Regions from separate parts of the Homo sapiens genome. Here region 2 is linked to region 1. The links come from fine-mapping of genetic effects on gene expression. A gene starts in region 1. The other region holds a variant in brackets. All regions are shown on one strand. Distances are between the middles of the regions.

Evidence for each region. PIP is the estimated chance that this variant, and not a neighbour inherited with it, causes the effect. A credible set is the group of variants that fine-mapping cannot tell apart.
Region 2: its variant is the best candidate, but not a certain one, in a credible set for the expression of ACBD4 in anterior cingulate cortex (GTEx, PIP 0.72).

Annotation. Positions count from the first base shown.
Region 1 is chr17:45,133,243-45,138,605 of GRCh38, reverse strand. It overlaps ACBD4 (acyl-CoA binding domain containing 4), which reads right to left and starts at 2,919. Exons shown (of 10, transcript NM_001135705.3): 1 at 2,653-2,919; 2 at 2,374-2,498; 3 at 1,986-2,106; 4 at 1,830-1,914; 5 at 1,467-1,587; 6 at 1,152-1,238; 7 at 776-846; 8 at 618-693. The coding sequence starts at 2,461. RefSeq lists an enhancer at 5,298-5,363.
Region 2 is chr17:45,109,031-45,114,393 of GRCh38, reverse strand. It overlaps PLCD3 (phospholipase C delta 3), which reads left to right. Exons shown (of 15, transcript NM_133373.5): 11 at 28-144; 12 at 789-955; 13 at 1,137-1,272; 14 at 1,382-1,531; 15 at 1,690-5,363. The coding sequence ends at 1,778. It overlaps MIR6784 (microRNA 6784), which reads left to right; the gene lies at 1-27. Among named protein-coding and RNA genes, the nearest start is that of MIR6784, 2.7 kb to the left of the region's middle. RefSeq lists enhancers at 734-1,598, 1,599-2,464. The variant G/C (reference allele first, on the strand shown) is at 2,871.

The DNA.
Region 1 (5,363 bases):
TTGGCCAGGCTGGTCTCAAACTCCTGACCTCAGGTGATCTGCCTGCCTTGGCCTCCCAAAGTGCTGGGATTACAGGCGTGAGCCATCGTGCCCGGCCAAAGTCATTAACTTCTCTGGGCATCATTTTGTCATCTAAAAATTAGGAGAAGATGTCATTTCTCTCACAGGGCTGCTTGCTCAGAGGAAAAAAGGAGAAACTTTTCAAAATGTCCATACAGGACCTGACACACAACAGGAGTTCTAGAAGGGAAGAGGGCAGAACTCATTGTCTTCTGAGATTTCCAAACGGGGGAGTCCAGAGAATATGGATGACTTCCTGAGGCTGTGCAGCTGTAGGTGGGAGAACTGGGCTAGGACTCCCATCCCGCTGGCCTTACTCAGGACCTGCAGAGGGTGCAGACTCCTGGGTGCCCTTTGGGGAGAGGAGGGAGGGCGGGGACTTTGCCCATCCAGGCAGGTATCTGGCTGGTTGGCAGCCCTTCCTGGACAGAGGCTTCTCGCTCAGTGCCCAGCAATGGACTTTCAACTCTGCCCTAGGAAGGCAGCCAAGAGAAAGCCTGGGGTGCCAGGACCACGGGAAAGGGCAGAAGTGGGTGAGAGGTTGGGTAGGAGCTCACCTTTCTTTGTGGGGGGCACGGGGCTGTTCCTGGGATCACGCTTTCCTCCAGATGCTGCCCGCTGCTCTGTCCAAACCTGCTGAGATGAGTCAGAGAGCTGAGGGTGGGAGTGGGAGCACAGTGGGGTGGGAAAAGGGGGGAATGGGGACTGGGCTCACCAGCTCAGGCTCCAGCTGCTCCAGGGAATCACAGAAAACCTCGGAGTCCAGGTCCCTGGGTGAATGGGACTCTGTGGAGGGGTTGGTAGAGTTACTGCCCAGAGGGAAGCTGTGGAGGGAGAGCAGGAGTGTGCACTGGGCAGAAGCACCTGTTTAGGAGACACTAGAGATACGAGGCACTAGAGATATCAACACCTGAGGCACAGATGGGCGCCAGAAGCAAGGCCCTGGAACAGGAATCCTAGACCCCGGTCCCCACCTTTGGGAGCACAGGAAGTCTCAGTGTCTGTGGAGGGCACAGCGTGGCATCCAGCCTTCTCCCCTCCAGCCCTCCCCCAGCCTGAGTTTGGTCCACCCCTCCTGCTCAAGCACTAACCTGGGCTTGGGGGTGCCGGTTCCTTGGGGAGGCAGGGAGGCTCTGAAACAGCCCCAACATCTCCATTCACAACCTGCTCTTTCCAACCTGCCAAGACACAGCACCCAGAGGTGGGCCTGGGGAGAGGCTGGCACCTCCCAGTGTGATCAAGCCCCTACTCGTGATGAGCCGTGGATGCTGCCTGGGATCCACCTCTCGGGGGCTTGGGGGCCCTAACAGGGATGTCGCCTGGAGCCCTCTGCCCCCAGCCCACCTCAGCCTAGACCTAAGACGGTTCACTCAGCACTTTTGGAGCTCCCAGCCTGGGAGTCTGACCTGTGACCCTTCTCAGGAAGGTCTCTGGGGGCCTCGGCATGTCAGGGATCACCTGGTACAGGGGCTCGAAGTAACCAAACATGTCCTCTGCCACCTCACCCAGGGGCACTGTGTCGATCACCTGTAGGGGAGGGGGTCTGTTGGGGACGGAGTGGCCTCCTGTCCCTTCCTCCCTGCTCCTGCCCTGTCACACACCTCCACCCTGTGCCCAGTCAGGGGCCAAAGATAGGCAGGGTTGGGGGTAACATGAAGGTGGTGATTCCCATGAGGGGGTCCATGTGTAGGAAACGTAGTGGGGGTCAGAACTGGAAGGGTGAGGCCACCTGGCCAGGAGCCTGGGGACAGAGAACCTGCAGCCCTTACCTTCTGTGCCACCAGTTTCATTTCAGTGATGTAGGCAGACATGGCCTCCTCCCTGCTCATCTTGCCCAGACTGTTCCAGGCGTCCCTGGGGGCAGAGGGCTGTGAGAGGGCTGCTTGACAGCTGAGGCTTGTCTGCCCAGCCAGCAGGGAGCTCACCACTTATATCGTCCAATGGGGTCCCAGAACCCGGGCCGGGGGACCAGGCAGGGCCCCATGGTGGCCTGCTTGTAGTAACTGTAGAATCGCAGCATCTCTTCATAGGAGGGGCGGTAAGAACCTGGGCAGAGAGTTGGGAAGCCAGGGCAAAGCATCACTCCCAGCTCCAAGGGGCGGAGGGGCGGGAGAACCCTGCTTGGAAAGGGCAGAGGTGGTGATGGGTCCCACCCAGGGCATCTGGACTAGGATAGGAAGCGGAGGGAACCCCCAGGACAGCCCAGGCAGGGGCTTGTCTGCAAAAACTGCAGTGATCAGGACCATTCTTTCTTCAGAGTCAGACCCCAGGCGTCCTGAATGCGAGTCCAAATGCGAGTCCCCGCAGCCTCACCGTTCTTGGGCAGGTTCTGGATGACGCTCACTGCAGCCTGGAACTGTTTCTGGCAGTCGGGCTCTGGGCTTTCTTTCTCGGTGCCCATGCTGCTGCGAGCCCTGGGGCCCTACTTTTGAGCGACTCTGCAAGAAGCAGCCTTCGTGTGAGGGGGCCTCCAGGGTCCCCCCGGCACCATAAGCCAAGGATTCACTTCCCAGAGGGGCAAACTAAGCTCTTTAGAGGCCTCAGACACCCTGGGAGGTCAGAAGTTGTGGTTGAGGAGCCTCCTTTTCCTACCTCAAGGCAGTGTGGTGGGGTCAGGGTCGCCAGGTGGCGAGGCAGGTGGCGAGGGCCTCAGTGCCAGATGTGTCCGTCCCCAGATGCGCCTCCTTTAGGTGCACATCTCCAACTCCCGAACAGGTGGAGAAACAAGATAGGAGTACTCAGGGCGGGGCGAACAGTCTCCCACCCTGGCCGCCTGCACCTTGGCCCAGCGTGTGCCCCGCGGCGCCCACTGCCAGGACACCTGGGTCCTCTCTCGCCACCACCCCGCGGCTTCCTACTGACCCCGGGGTCCAGCAGGGCCGGGATGGCGACGCAGATCGAGGGGGGGAATTTAGGCCAATGAGAGAGCCTGTTTCACATTCGGCTTACCTACCTCAACCATTCAGCACAGCTCTTTCAAGATCATGCAAATAGTTTCTCAGAGCCTTTCCCAATCAGGCGGGGCTTAATCGAAGGGTCGGACTTCCCAGCCCGGGATGGCCAAGGCGGGCGGCAGCGCCCCCTGGTGCACATAGTGAAAGGTCGTGGCGTCCTAGCGCCCCCTGGTGGAAATCCGCATCTGTTCGCTGATATCCAGGCCTGGCCGATCCGAGGCAACCCACTCAGCTCTCTAGACACTTAGGCACTGGGGATTAAAAAAAGTCATGTCCTGTGGTCAGGTGTTCTAGAGGAAGGACATCACAGCTCAGTTTTGGAAGATGGTCGGGCACGGTGGCTCATGCCTGTAATCCCAGAACTTTGGGAGGCCAAGGCGGGCGGATCACCTGAGGTCAGGAGTTCGAGACCAGCCGGGCCAACATAGTGAAACCCCATCTCTACTAAAAATACACAAATTAGCCGGGCGTGGTGGCGCGCGCCTGTAATCCCAGCTACACGGGAGGCTGAGGCAGGAGAATCGCTTGAACCCGGGAGGTGGAGATTGCAGTGAGCCAAGATTGCCCCACTGCACTCCAGCCTGGGCGAGAGTGAGACTCCATCTCAAAAAAAAAAAAAGAGTAAGCAAAATGGACATCGCAGAATGATGGTTACCAGAGGCTGGGAAGGGTACTGGGGAGGGGGGGAAATGGGTACAAAAATACAGTTAGAATGAATGAGATCCAGTGTTCGGTAGCACAATACAACGATTATAGTTACCAATAATTTATTGTATCTTTTTATTTTGTTTATTTTATTTTATTTATTTATTTTTTTGAGACGGAGTCTCACTCTCTCCCGGGCTGGAGTGCAGTGGCGTGATCTCGGCTCACTGCAATCTCCGCCTCCCGGGTTCACGCCATTCTCCTGCCTCAGCCTCCCGAGCAACTGGGATTACAGGCGCTCGCCACCACGCCCAGCTAATTTTTTGTATTTTTTAGTAGAGACGGGGTTTCACCATATTAGCCAGGATGGTCTCGATCTCCTGACCTCGTGATCCGCCGACCTCGGCCTCCCAAAGTGTTGGGATTACAGGCGTGAGCCACCGCGCCCGGCCTATTGTATCTTTTTAAATTAATTATTTTAAAAACAATTTTTGTAGAGGCAGAAGTCTCATTATGTTGCCCAGGCTGGTCTTCATTCAATACCTGGCCTCAAGTGATCATCCCACCTCTGCCTCCCAAAGTGCTGGGATTACAGGCGTGAGCCACCGCATCCGGCCAATTTATTGTATATTTCAAAATAACTGGGCGGGAAGTGGTGGCTCAGGCCTGTAGTCCCAACACTTTGGGAGGCCAAGGCAAGAGAATTGCTTTGAGGCTGCAGTGAGCTATGATCATGCCACTGCACTCCACCCTGGGCAACCAAGTAGTGAGACCTTGTCTCTAATAAACAAATAAAATACAAATACAAATAACTAAAAGCGGAATTGGAATGTTCCTAATACAAAGGAATGATAAATGCTTGAGGTGATGGTTACTTCAATTACCTTGATTTGATCATTACACATTTTATACCTGTATCAAAACATTACATGCCTCTCCATAATTCTCTGCAACTATTAAGTGTCCATAACAATTAAAAGAAATGTAGACTTAGCCTATCCAACAACAAGAATAACAAAAGGGTAAACCAGGAGAATAAGGAAGGTTGTTTCTGGAGGAAGGAACGGCAGGATCAAAAGCACAAAGGCGAATACGATAATCAAGAAGAAAATTCAGGGCCGGGCGCGGTGGCTCACGCCTGTAATCCCAGCACTTTGGGAGGCCGAGGCGGGCGGATCACGAGGTCAGGAGATCGAGACCATCCCGGCTAAAACGGTGAAACCCCGTCTCTACTAAAAATACAAAAAATTAGCCGGGCGTAGTGGCGGGCGCCTGTAGTCCCAGCTACTTGGGAGGCTGAGGCAGGAGAATGGCGTGAACCCGGGAGGCGGAGCTTGCAGTGAGCCGAGATCCCGCCACTGCACTCCAGCCTGGGCGACGGAGCGAGACTCCGTCTCAAAAAAAAAAAAAAAAAAAAAAAAAAAAAGAAAATTCAGGACCCCAGAGTGGCGTAGGGACCCAAGCCAGTGTGCAGAATCTCTGGGCCTGGGAGATCTGAGGATGGGGTAGAGCAGGGCAAGTAGGTGGCAAATCAGGCCCTGAGCACTAGCCTCTCTGTAGGATGCCACGCCGCTGGCCGCCGCAAAGTGGCGGTGTGCGCCCATGTCTCTGCCGGACCCAGGCCACCGGCCGCAGAAACGCTGCCACCTGGACGTCCCCCACTTCGCGCACGCACTCTGGTGCTTGCATATAAATAGTAAGTGC
Region 2 (5,363 bases), 24 kb after region 1:
CACGGTCTCACCCCAACTCTGCCCCAGGGAACAGCTTTGTCAGGCACAATGCCCGCCAGCTGACCCGCGTGTACCCGCTGGGGCTGCGGATGAACTCAGCCAACTACAGTCCCCAGGAGATGTGGAACTCGGGCTGTCAGCTGGGTAAGTGGGGGCCACAGGAATGAGAGCAGGCGGGGTGCCACAGTGTGGGGGAGGCCTCAGCAGTGAGGGGCCCACACAGCCTTCCAGACGGTGGAAACACGCATTTTGTTGATTATTTTTAAAGTTGCCAGCAATGTAGGTGGGAAAATCAAATCAGGCTCGTTTGTTCTTGACAGTGTACAGGTCTCGCATTTTTATCATGGTAGAAATTAAAATCTCCACTCCCATGTCCCCCGGACACACACAACCCCCACACACCTGGCAGTCCCACTAAGTCAACACTGACAAGGGTGGGCTCTGGGGGACGCTGAGCCCCACCAAAGGAGGGCTGTATCGTCTCCTTGGGGTAAGGATGGAAACCCCAGGCTTCCTCAGACCCCTGGCTCTGACCCAAGCCTGGCCCTGAGGGTGGGGGCTTTTTTAGTACCTCCCACCCCAGTCTTGAGGGATCCCAGGGCAGAAGTACAGGTGACAGTGGGGGCTGGGTCCATGACCCCCTCCCCTAAAGTCATGGTGGGAGCAGAGCAGCACTAAGCAGACAGTGGGACCCCAGGCCCTTTGTAGAGAGGAATGCAGTCCCCTGAAACTGAGTAGTGAGAACAGGGCCGCTAAGAGCCCCTGCTCTGACCCTGCTGTGTCCACAGTGGCCTTGAACTTCCAGACGCCAGGCTACGAGATGGACCTCAATGCCGGGCGCTTCCTAGTCAATGGGCAGTGTGGCTACGTCCTAAAACCTGCCTGCCTGCGGCAACCTGACTCGACCTTTGACCCCGAGTACCCAGGACCTCCCAGAACCACTCTCAGCATCCAGGTCAGCAGGCTGGAACGGGCCCCAGTGTGGGGTCAGACTGGTTCTAGAAAGGCTCTTTGTGAGGTGGAGGAAGGCAAGGGAGGCTGGGGACATTTGGAAGTGAGGGTGGTGTGAGCTTGAGGCCCATGAGGGGATGGCCAAGGTGGGCGTGGGCCCCAGCCACTCCCTCCCTCACCCACAGGTGCTGACTGCACAGCAGCTGCCCAAGCTGAATGCCGAGAAGCCACACTCCATTGTGGACCCCCTGGTGCGCATTGAGATCCATGGGGTGCCCGCAGACTGTGCCCGGCAGGAGACTGACTACGTGCTCAACAATGGTGGGCAGCCACTGGCGGAAGTGGGGTTGGGGGAGACTGCAGAGAGCGAAGGGTGGTGCAGGGTGGGTCCTGGGGCCCCTGGGCTCTGACTGCCATCCCTGTGCCCTAGGCTTCAACCCCCGCTGGGGGCAGACCCTGCAGTTCCAGCTGCGGGCTCCGGAGCTGGCACTGGTCCGGTTTGTGGTGGAAGATTATGACGCCACCTCCCCCAATGACTTTGTGGGCCAGTTTACACTGCCTCTTAGCAGCCTAAAGCAAGGTTGGTGGAGGCTGGTGGGGATGGAGAGGGATGTGGGTCCAGGTCCTGCAGACCCTGTTCACCTTTGTGCCTCGAATTTCCTGCCCTGAAGCAGGCCCGGGCTGGGCCAGACCCCCAGGGTGCACAGAGGACCTGAGGCCTGGCTGTCCTCCCTACAGGGTACCGCCACATACACCTGCTTTCCAAGGACGGGGCCTCACTGTCACCAGCCACGCTCTTCATCCAAATCCGCATCCAGCGCTCCTGAGGGCCCACCTCACTCGCCTTGGGGTTCTGCGAGTGCCAGTCCACATCCCCTGCAGAGCCCTCTCCTCCTCTGGAGTCAGGTGGTGGGAGTACCAGCCCCCCAGCCCACCCACTTGGCCCACTCAGCCCATTCACCAGGCGCTGGTCTCACCTGGGTGCTGAGGGCTGCCTGGGCCCCTCCTGAAGAACAGAAAGGTGTTCATGTGACTTCAGTGAGCTCCAACCCTGGGGCCCTGAGATGGCCCCAGCTCCTCTTGTCCTCAGCCCACCCCTCATTGTGACTTATGAGGAGCAAGCCTGTTGCTGCCAGGAGACTTGGGGAGCAGGACACTTGTGGGCCCTCAGTTCCCCTCTGTCCTCCCGTGGGCCATCCCAGCCTCCTTCCCCCAGAGGAGCGCAGTCACTCCACTTGGCCCCGACCCCGAGCTTAGCCCCTAAGCCCTCCTTTACCCCAGGCCTTCCTGGACTCCTCCCTCCAGCTCCGGAACCTGAGCTCCCCTTCCCTTCTCAAAGCAAGAAGGGAGCGCTGAGGCATGAAGCCCTGGGGAAACTGGCAGTAGGTTTTGGTTTTTATTTTTTGAGACAGGGTCTCGCTCCGTCGCCCAGGCTGGAGTGCAATGTTGCAATCATGGCTCACTGCAGCTTTGAACTCCCAGGCTCAAGCGATCCTCCCATCTCAGCCTCCTGAGTAGCTGGGACTACAGGCACAGGCCACCAAACCTGGCTAATGTTTAAATTTTATGTAGAGATGGCGGGGGGGGCGGGGGTCTCCCTATGTTGCCCAGGCTGGTCTCGAGCTCCTGACCTCAAGTGATCCTCCTGCCCCAGCATTCCAAAGTGCTGGGATTACAGGTGTGAGCCACTGCCTGGCCTGGCCGTAGGTTTGTAACTGTTTCATAGAAGAGCCCTGGAGAAGACAGTAGAATGAGCCTATCTAGTTTAAAAAATAAAGAAGCACGTTGATTTCACCACCGCCACTCCCTGAGCACCTCTATGCTGCCACCCCCACAGGCCCATGAGGAGGGACAGGGCTGGATGAGTTTCTTGGGCCTCTCCCCTCAACAGGGCATGGACTTGGCTAAGACAGCCAGGG[G/C]GTGGCAGCAGGAGATGCCACAGCTCTAAATAGCCCGATCCCTGCTCCTGGCTTAAAGCTGCTGCGAGTATCACAAGACTGTCTGAGGATGCCAATTCAGCAGGTCAGCGCCTCCCCACAACACACACACACACACACACACACACACACTCACACATACACAGAGGGGCCTTGAATGAGGAGGAGACAGGAGTCTGAGGGACCCTCAGACTGCCACTCTCCAGGCTTGGCTGGGCTCAAGGCCCCTGTCTGCTCAGTAGGGCAAATCCCAAGGACACGGGCTTCCCTTCCTCCAGCCAGCCAGCCTTTTACACAAAGGCTGGAAACGCTGCTTGGGCCGCCTCTATAGAAATGCCAGGAGAGCGCACTGGACACTAGGCGACAGAATCTGGAGAAAATCCTGCACCCGCCCCTGCCAGCAGGGTGAAATGTGGAGGCCTGGTGTTTTAGGTTCTGCCAGCCAACAGTGCCGGCACTGGACAAGGGCAGAACTTGACATTAGTCCCCAGAGGGTGGCCTGGAACTGGGCTGGGATAGGCCTTGAACTGGCCCCAAGCCCCACAGAAACCAAAACACAGGGCTGGGGCAGACTCCACCTTCTAGCAACTCCAAGAACTAATGCAGAAAGTGGCAGTGTCCCCCGCTCCTTCATGCTGGGAGTGGCGTTTGGCTCTGGTTAATTTGTGTGTCTGAAAGAGGATAATCAGAATCAAAAGGGCCCAGAAGGAATGGGCCGAGCCAGGCGGGCCGGGCCAGGCAGCCCGGGCATCTGGCACTCAGGGCTGTCAGAGGGTCAGGCTGCCAAACTGCAGCCTCAGGATGGGAGGCACAGTGAGGCTAAGTCCAGTTTTAGCAAATGAAGAGCCATTAGCATTGCCCAGCCCCTGCAGAGCCAGGTCTGGCCAGGGGCTGGCTGGGGGGTCTGGGTCAGGTGAGCACCAGACCCAGGGCTGAGTGCCCATCCTGCTTGGCTTCTCTGGTTTCGTATCTGGTACCAAGAGGAAGGGGTGAAGGCTAGGATGAGGGCCCAATACTGAGAAGGCTGCCTTGAAAGGGCAAGAGTCTTTTTTTTTTTTCTTTTGAGACAAAGTCTTGCTCGTCCCCCAGGATGGAGTGCGATGGCGTGATCTCGGCTCACTGCAACCTCTGCCTCCCGGGTTCAAGCGATTCTCTTGCCTCAGCCTCCGGAGTAGCTGGGATTACAGGCGCCCGCCACCATACCCAGCTAATTTTTGTATTTTTAGTAGAGACGGGGTTTCACCATGTTGGCCAGGCTGGTCTCGAACTCCTGACCTCAGGTGATCCACCCGCCTTGACCTCCCAAAGTGCTGGGATTACAGGCGTGAGCCACTGCACCCAGCCAAAAGGGCAAGAGTCTTTAAGGAAGTGAACTGGGAAGCAGAAGCAAGGGAGAAATCACAGGGTTTTTTTTTTGTTTGTTTTTTTGAGATGGAGTCTCGCTCTGTCGCCTAGGCTAGAGTGCAGTGGCACGACCTTGGCTCACTGCAAGCTCCGCCTCCCGGGTTCACACCATTCTCCTGCCTCAGCTTCCCAAGTAGCTGGGACTACAGGCGCCCACCACCATGCCCGGCTAATTTTTTTGTGTTTTTAGTAGAGACAGGGTTTCATAGTGTTAGCCAGGATGGTCTCGATCTCCTGACCTCGTGATCCACCCGCCTCGCCCTCCCAAAGTGCTGGGATTACAGGCGTGAGCCACCATGCCCAGCCTGAAATCACAGCTTTTTATCCCAGAGGCCCATGGGTAGAAACAACACATAGGGCTATGTTCTCTCAGCCCAAAGCTAAGGGCAGGAAAAAAGGCATGGGCCATAGGAGCCTGAGTGACTTGGTTTGGGACAGGAGGGTTGGGGGGCTTTAGAGGGGTCAGGCAGGTCCTGTGTCCTCTCAGTTTCCCTGGAAAGGGGCTTGGAGGCACCAGTCATGGACCTGAAAGGATCAGGGGGTCAGGGAATGGGTAAGTTCCAGAGGATGAGAAGAGGGGGAATGGGAAGTCTTAAACACAGCTACTGGGGCCCAGCAACTTGCCATGTTAAAATGCACCCCTAGTGACTCAAAGAACCACCCGGCCAGTGGTGCAGGAGGAGAGATGTGGCACCTGGGCACAGTGGGAAGGCACGGGGCCTGCACCTCCACCAGAGGAGCCACTGCTGACCTGGACCAAGGGGGCTGCTCTGTGCCCAGCTAGGGAAGCCTGGGCCGGCTCCTGTGCTGAGGTGCTCAGGTGCTGGCTGAGAGCCCAGTTGCTGCTCTAACTTGGAGTGAACCTGGGTCAATAGCAGCTCGTCTCTGGCGGGTGGGAAGGGTCTGACAACACCAAGTTTGCCCTGGAAGAAGGGCAGCCTTAAAGGAAGGCCTTTGGAAGCTGGCCTGGTGCTGTGGGCTTGAGGGACTTTGTGTCCAAGCCCTGTCGTCCTGGCTCCAGCCTAGGCTCCAGCACTCCATTTCTTCCACTGCCACCTGCTGACCAGGAAT